Homo sapiens: one gene and its partner. The protein of the gene in region 1 purifies or fractionates together with the protein of each later gene. This does not show direct contact. Each region holds a gene or a part of one and is shown on either strand. Other genes may lie near its edges.

Evidence for each region. The genes of interacting proteins can lie anywhere in the genome.
Region 2: the proteins of HELZ (region 1) and NISCH purify together in Homo sapiens (affinity purification with mass spectrometry, with the first as the bait; one large-scale study listed by BioGRID). This does not show direct contact.

The regions. Positions count from the first base shown.
Region 1 is NC_000017.11:67,238,697-67,242,290, forward strand, and holds part of HELZ (probable helicase with zinc finger domain), read right to left. Parts: intron 794-3,594; 5' UTR 737-793; intron 1-736. UniProt on the Homo sapiens protein: May act as a helicase that plays a role in RNA metabolism in multiple tissues and organs within the developing embryo.
Region 2 is NC_000003.12:52,479,604-52,483,197, reverse strand, and holds part of NISCH (nischarin), read right to left. Parts: intron 3,450-3,594; coding exon 3,336-3,449; intron 3,015-3,335; coding exon 2,903-3,014; coding exon of another isoform or gene 2,679-2,902; exon of another isoform or gene 2,320-2,678; coding exon of another isoform or gene 2,300-2,319; exon of another isoform or gene 441-2,299; coding exon of another isoform or gene 431-440; intron 1-430. UniProt on the Homo sapiens protein: Acts either as the functional imidazoline-1 receptor (I1R) candidate or as a membrane-associated mediator of the I1R signaling.

The DNA.
Region 1 (3,594 bases):
TAATAATTTTAACTCTGATGCCTCATAAGGAAAGTATTAAAAGCCTTCTAATTTATTTCTGTAGTATTACCATTTTCTAAGTGTAATAATGAAAGACGAAGACACCATAGCTGACCAAGAAGATTAATTACTGTGAAATAATAAATACTCAAGACTAAACTGTTTTTAATTAACAGGTATTTCAGCAAAAAGTAAATAATCTGAAAGACTAATAGTATCAATAGAGGTAGTACAACCACTAGGAAAAAAAGTTCAACCTTTTGTTTCTATTGATATGTTCTCCATATTTAGATCCTCAAAACTGCAGATATATACAGTCATTCATGACACTATGTAAATAGCAGATAACAGGAAAAACAATTCAATACTTAACCAAGTTCACTGGAGCACAAAGTAATCGCCACTCAAGAATGCTGACACAAAAACTGAAGGACCTCTCAAGTTCCAATAGCACGCAGATAAGCTGAGCCCCTATGCAGTTACTCATCTGAACAGAAGTGGAAGATTAACCTACCCTCACTCATTTCACACACTAACCTGACAAGGCAGCAGGCAGTCTCTTCGGAGCTTGTTCATCATTCAGTCTGTTCCAGAAGTAACCGATTCCGTTAGGATCTGTGCCTTCAGGTTACCACTGTTTCACTACAGCCCTGTATCACTTCACCCTTGTCCCACCTTATTCTTTCAGGCATTATAAAATTCTTGTTTTCTAAATAAAGTTCTAAACCTTACTCACCTGCAGTTCACTGCACTGGGTATCACCCAAATAGCCCATCAGAGCTCTTTATAATTTCTGAAAGACAAAGAAGAAAGTTTTTTTAATACATAGTAGAAAACACCATTCACCAAGATATCAGTTCCAAAGCATTTGTATCCAATATTCCCAGCATATGGTCTTTTGGTCCACACTAGTTCAATAAAATGTAGCATGACCAGCACTAGACCAAGAGTCTTGAGATAAGCCTCCAAAGATTAAAAACAAGCTTGGTTTAATGTTGCTACTACTGAGCTGTGTGACCTTGAGCAACTCATTTAATTTCTTCAGGCCTATATTTCCTTATCTGGAAAATAAGTCACTTAGACTAGCTAGAGAAAGAAGAGCACAGGCTTTCCAGGAAGAACACCAGCTCCACTACTTTACTGGTCTCGTGACGTTACATTAGTTGAGTCACACTTAAGCCTGAATTTCTTCCTTTGTAAAATGGAAATAACTATCTCGTGAGTTGCTATGAGAATTAAAGGAGATGATGAGTTATAAAAAGCCTATAGTAAATATACTGTGCAGCTTATCCTAAAATTCAACAGATGGTAATTCATTACTACCATTAACCCCCACCAGCCCTAACATTACATGAATTCAATTCATGCATATTTCTTTTAAAAGATCAACAAATCAAAACTTTACCAACCTGACTAAAGAACTAACTGTTTTCATGTTTCACAATTCAAATTACAGTTATCTTAAGCTGATGGTAGTTTATCATTATTACTTATCACAGAAAATAAGAACAGAATAGTCCCTGCACAACATCCAAACTCTGGTTCAATGACCATGCCTTTTCTGACTTCTCACTCTACTTCCACACTGCCAGAATATCTCAGGAATAGAGAGGTCTTCCAAAAGCTAAATGACACCCAGCTGTTTGCCAGATTCAGCTCAAGGGAGCAGGACTAGAGACAGAAGAAGAACAGAGGCTTTTCTTTTTTTTAACCTTTTTTACTTTACATAAGTACTGCTCAAATTTGTTTACCATAAGCATACAGGAGTTTTGCATAAAAGTAAATAATTTTTTAAAACTGTATTAGTTAAACACGTTGCCTACTGACAGGAAGCTCGCATTATAGGACATTTTCATCACAACAAAGATAATTTCTGCAGAAGGAAGCAAAAAGGCAAATTCAGATGTGACAAGAACACCTAAAATATAGCACAGAAATGACAAAAATCACAAACATTCACACTTCAGAATAGTTCAGTCAACAAAGATGCCATGCATTCTTTGAAGAACCTGACGATGAATCAAGTTCTTTTTTGTTCAAAGACAAGATATATGTATACACTCTGCTTTACCAAACAACTTCCTGCTCTTACTTGGAGAAACTGACCCAGTACAATTCACAAAAGTAAACAAGTTGGTATGACTGTTGGTATTAGTTGAAAAACTTTCCATTTCTTTTGAATAATTAAAAGTTGACCAAAATAGTTATTACATGTATATATAAATAAAATTCTTCCTGTTACATCTACAGTGGTCTTTTAAAAAGAGGAATATTCACTTCTAACAGATTCAAGATTACTGAAAACTATTATCCCAGCCACCCTCAAAGCAATAAACCATCATGTTATATGCTGCTTCTAGCCAATGCTACAGAAGTAACCCTGACTGCACTCATCAACTGAAATGAATGGTAAGATAGTATGGCATACTCTCCACTTGTATCACTTTTCTTCTAGAAAACATTTCAAAACATTACTTAGAAATCCAATTACATCTGCATGTATATTCACCTAAGTTTATGAAAATTAAACCTAAAAATTTGCTTATAATTTTTTAAGTAGTTCCTCCCCATCTCTTGGATAACTGTTGTTGATACACCTGGCCCGAAATCTTCTATACATTTGAAACAACAGGCAAAGGTCCTTATTTCTTGTATGGGGCCTGTATTTGGATCTTAGGGTCTCTGACAGACAATTATAGACTAATCTACATTCAATATTAATGCCAAGCCTACTGCTTAAATAGAGAACACATGCATCTGTAAGATCTGGGCTACTTACTTGTAGGTCCCTCTGCACTATTCTTAGCCTTTCATGAATATGCTGTAGATTTTTTAATTACACGAGGCCCTTTGCAAGTAAAAATGACTTTTCCTGTTGTTTTGGCATCACTCCTCTTCCAGTGAAAACTGGACAGTCTATAAATATATACCAACTTTAAGACAATGCATTTTAATATCTATGGCATTAGAAAATAAAACTTCTTGTTAACAAATGCAATAATCAAGTTTACCAGCTAATAGAAAGGTACTTACTCCCAAAAACTACAGCCTTACCTAAAAATAGTGTCCTAGCTTCCCAGCCAAAAGGACAGACTAAAAAAGCTCTGTCTTTATTCAGCTCAGAGACACAGACTTCTACCTCACCACAACCTTCAATACTATGGCATTTCCCATTTTAGAATACTTTGTGTAACAAGTTGTTCAGTGGCCAACCACTAACTTCGCTTTGAAATGAATACTAACACTTCACAGAGTCTACATGTGTGAGAACTGTGGAAAATGTCTTGACACAATTCAGGTCAAACAACACTAGCCACACAAGATTACCTACTTCTAAGTATTCCATTTTAGACTACAAACAAACATCTCCACAGTCAAAAAGCAGACCACTGGCTCCTTTCCACAAAATTATCTGTAGGCTTCAAGAAAAAAGATAAGGCCAGGCATGGTGGCTCACGCTTGTAATCCCAGCACTTTGGGAGGCCAAGGCGGGCAGATCACCTGAGGTCAGGAGCTCGAGACCAGCCTGACCAACATGGTGAAACCCTCTCTCTACTAAAAATACAAAATTAGCCGGGTGTGGTGGCGTAAGCC
Region 2 (3,594 bases), on another chromosome or scaffold:
GCCCCCACGAAGCGAAGCAGCAGGGGGTAGGCAGGCAGGAAGGATGGCAAGCACACAGCCATGCATGAAGCACCCTGATGGGCCACGCTGGGCACCTGCCCAGGCCGCTGCTCTCCTGCAATCCACCCTCTGCCTGCTAACGTTCAACTCCTATTCACCTTCGAGATTCACCTCAGACACCACCTCCACTGCAGACCTTCTCTGCTCTAGACAGTCTACAAAAGCCCCACACCATCCTACCCTGTTCTCCTCCAGCACATGGCTCATCCTCCCGCATGGCTCCAAGCTCCCCAGGGGCACAGTCTGGGTCATCTTGAACCCCCTACTAAGGATGTGGGAAAGGGCAGCCCTCATCGACCACCTCTGTGGAGCTCTGGGTAGTGCCAAGCGCCTCCCCAGCATTCGCTCATGCATGCCTCTCGTTATTTACCACATTTCATCAAATCTAAGATGCGGCAGGTGGCGCCATCTTGGTCCTAGCGGAAGGTGTCCACGGGTTTTCCACGACTCCATCTCGAATACCAGCTGGCTGACAGCGACTATGAGACGCCACTGACTGAAAGACGCACCTCAGTTTCAGAGAAGTCACAAGGTGGAAATGCGTGCCTCTTAGAATCAATGAAGTAGGGTGCGTCCACTTCACAGTTGAGAAAACAGCTTCAGAGGGGCTACAAGTTGCTTGAGGTCCCACAGCTAGGAAGCTGGCATGCGAACTCAGCTGACCGAGCCCTGGCTCCTAACCACCTCTCCACACAGCCTCCTCTCAGCCCCTGGGCCTGGCTGGACAATCAACTCTGGCGACCACCCCTATTGGTCACAATCATCCATGGCTCCGACAGCGCCTGCCACGACGGGAGGCTGGGTGTTGTCTGGACAGCGCCCCCTTCAGGCAGGCCCGAGTGCCAGTTCCTTCGCAAGCAGGCTCCCTTCTCGGGAATCAGGCTGGAAGCAACAGGCATGGGTCAGCAAAGCTGCTCCCACGCGCTAAAAAACCCTGTCCATCCAGGCAAGACCCAGGAACACGCGGCTGAAAAAACACACGGGGAGGCCTCCAAATCAGTGAGAAAAAGACCAACACCTTTTGCCACTACCTCCCACAAGCCCTGTTTGGACCAAGGAAATGTGGACAGGGACAGGGACAGTCTATCTGCTCCCGTCCTGGACCGTGGCCTGTACAAACAAGTGGTCAGAAAGGGCACTCAGCGGATAGAGCGGAGACATCAGGAGAGTCCTTAGGGGTCCGATCTTTGCTGTTTCTCACCAAAAGGAAAGAGAGGTGCACACAAAGACATCCACTGCAGTTTTATTTAAGAGGTGCAAATCTGGAGGCCATGTCCAGAAGTCCAGCGATGGCGGGGACAGACTGCAGAGTGCCCCTCTGCAGAGTGTCCCCAGGGCACAAGGGGAGTGAGGAGGGGGCTGAGCTGGTGCAGAGGCTTCTCCGACAATGTGGGGGGCTGCCTGCAGCTGCAGCCTGGGGACATGGTGCATCCCCACCCATCCAGGGCCTGCTCTTCACTGGCTCCTGCTCTACCTGCCCACTCACTCACTCACTGATCAACAGATGCTGGCAGAAATGGCTGTGTCCCTGGCCTTGAGAAGCAGATGCAGCTCCCTGTCCCCAGAGGCCTACAGTCATATGGTACCTCCACAGGCTCGCTTGGCTGCGCTACAGGAGGCAGCGTCAGGGAAGCTTTCTCACCGTGATATAACCTCCCTGGCTTTTATGTAATAAAATGCAACCAGAAATCCTTAGTCAAGAGTCTGACAGAAGCAAAATGGGCAATCATCCTGGCACCTAACCCCATCGCTCCACGCTCAGGAATTCTCTTCCACATCTCACAGGTGTGACCTCAGTGTGCTGCTCTGCGTTGGGCCTTTTGCCTTAACTTGAATGCTTCTCCCCTCTTCCTGCCCAGTCTTCCTGTCCCTGCTGGGAGGGCTGCTGAGCATTCTGCACCACAGCCGACTCTCCCTCTCATCCTCCGATGTTGCAGTTGCAGCCCGTGTTTTGGCAGTGGTGAGCATTTCACCTCCCCTTCCCGGTATCTTATCCCTCTAAGAGAAAATCCCCACCAGTGGGGTTACCAGGTCAAGGGGTGGGAATGTTTTTCTGGCTCTTAAAACATCGGGTTGAACTGTTTTCCCAAGACCTCACACCAAGTTCTGCGTCTCCAGGAGCCCGGGCAGGCGGCGTCCTTTCCTGCGTGTCCCGAGCCTCGGCTCCACTCGGGACGGCACACCCTCCCCTCTTCCGTGGGGGCCGGGCCAGCAGACACGCTCATGAGACCTGCTTCACTCACTCATCTCCGAGGATGCCTGGGTTCAGAGGTGAAAGCCCTTTGAAAACGCTAAGATAGTGGGCAGACGAATGGGCCTGGTCTTCCATGGGTCCACAGGGACAGAGATGGCCCATCTTGGCCCCACAAACATGGTGTTCTGGGGCTGGGTCACCCCACAGAGATGAGGCAGTGATAAAAGCAAGCTTTTCCCTGCACAGGGATTCGGGCTCCAGACAGTAAAGTCACAAGCCCGGCTTCCTGTAACCAGGAGCCAACCTGCTTGTGCTGCCGGTGAGGGAATGGGTCCCATGAGCCAACAGCCCCGAGCCTGTTCAGAGGGCAGCCTCAGGGCCTGTCAGACACCCTGCGGTCTCCTAGAGGAGCTGGATGTGGGCATCAGAGCAATTGGGAGTCCTCACCAAGCAAGCAACAGCTGGCATCAGGCCAGGCACCCCTGCCATGTGTCCCCCCGCGAGGACCAGCCTGCAGAAGGCACTGCCCTCCCTGTGTCTGACCCTGTTGGAAGCAGGTGCTGGCACCTCTCCCCCAACCCCAGCCCAGCCAGGGGGCCCAGGCAGGGCTGTGTGGCTCCACTAGAAGCAAGATACATACACGATTACCTTGGTTAGAGAGGATGGGCTGGGGCAGGGAGGCAGATGCGGGAGCCACAGTGGGAGGGGAGCTGCTGGGTCTGATGCAGGGGGCAGCTGAGAGCCGGGAGTCTTCACCACCCTGAGGACGAGTGCTTGAGTCAGCCCGGGAGAGAAGAGGAAGCACAGAGCTCCCCAAGGCCAGGGGTGTGAGGAGGGAGCGCAACGGTTCCCACCAACTGGGTGGTAAAGATGGTCTCATCATATCCTTAGAGCAGGAACTACCACTGTCCCCACCCCACAGAGAACAGAGAGGCCGCGACTTGCCCGAGGTCATGCAGCCAGGGAGGGGCGCAGCTGGGACTCGGCAGCCCTGAGCAGTCCCATGGCCCAAGCCCCCCAAACTGGCTCCTATCCCGGCTGGCTCTGCACCACTGCCCTCCCACCTGCCACACAAACCCACCTTCTTCTCTGGGTTGCTCAGTTTGGACTTGACCTCCTTGGCTTTCTGAATTGCTTTCAGCACTTCCACAGTGTCCAGCTCCTTCTCTGTGGTCACTGTGTCATCCAGACAGACCTAGAGCATCCAGAAAGTGGCTATCAGCATGGGGACTGGTGATGGCTATCAGCATGGGGACTGGTGATGGCTATCAGCATGGGGACTGGTGAGCATGGCAGGAGGATGGTAGGGCTCTGCTGAGGAGGAGGCGTGAGCACCTGCT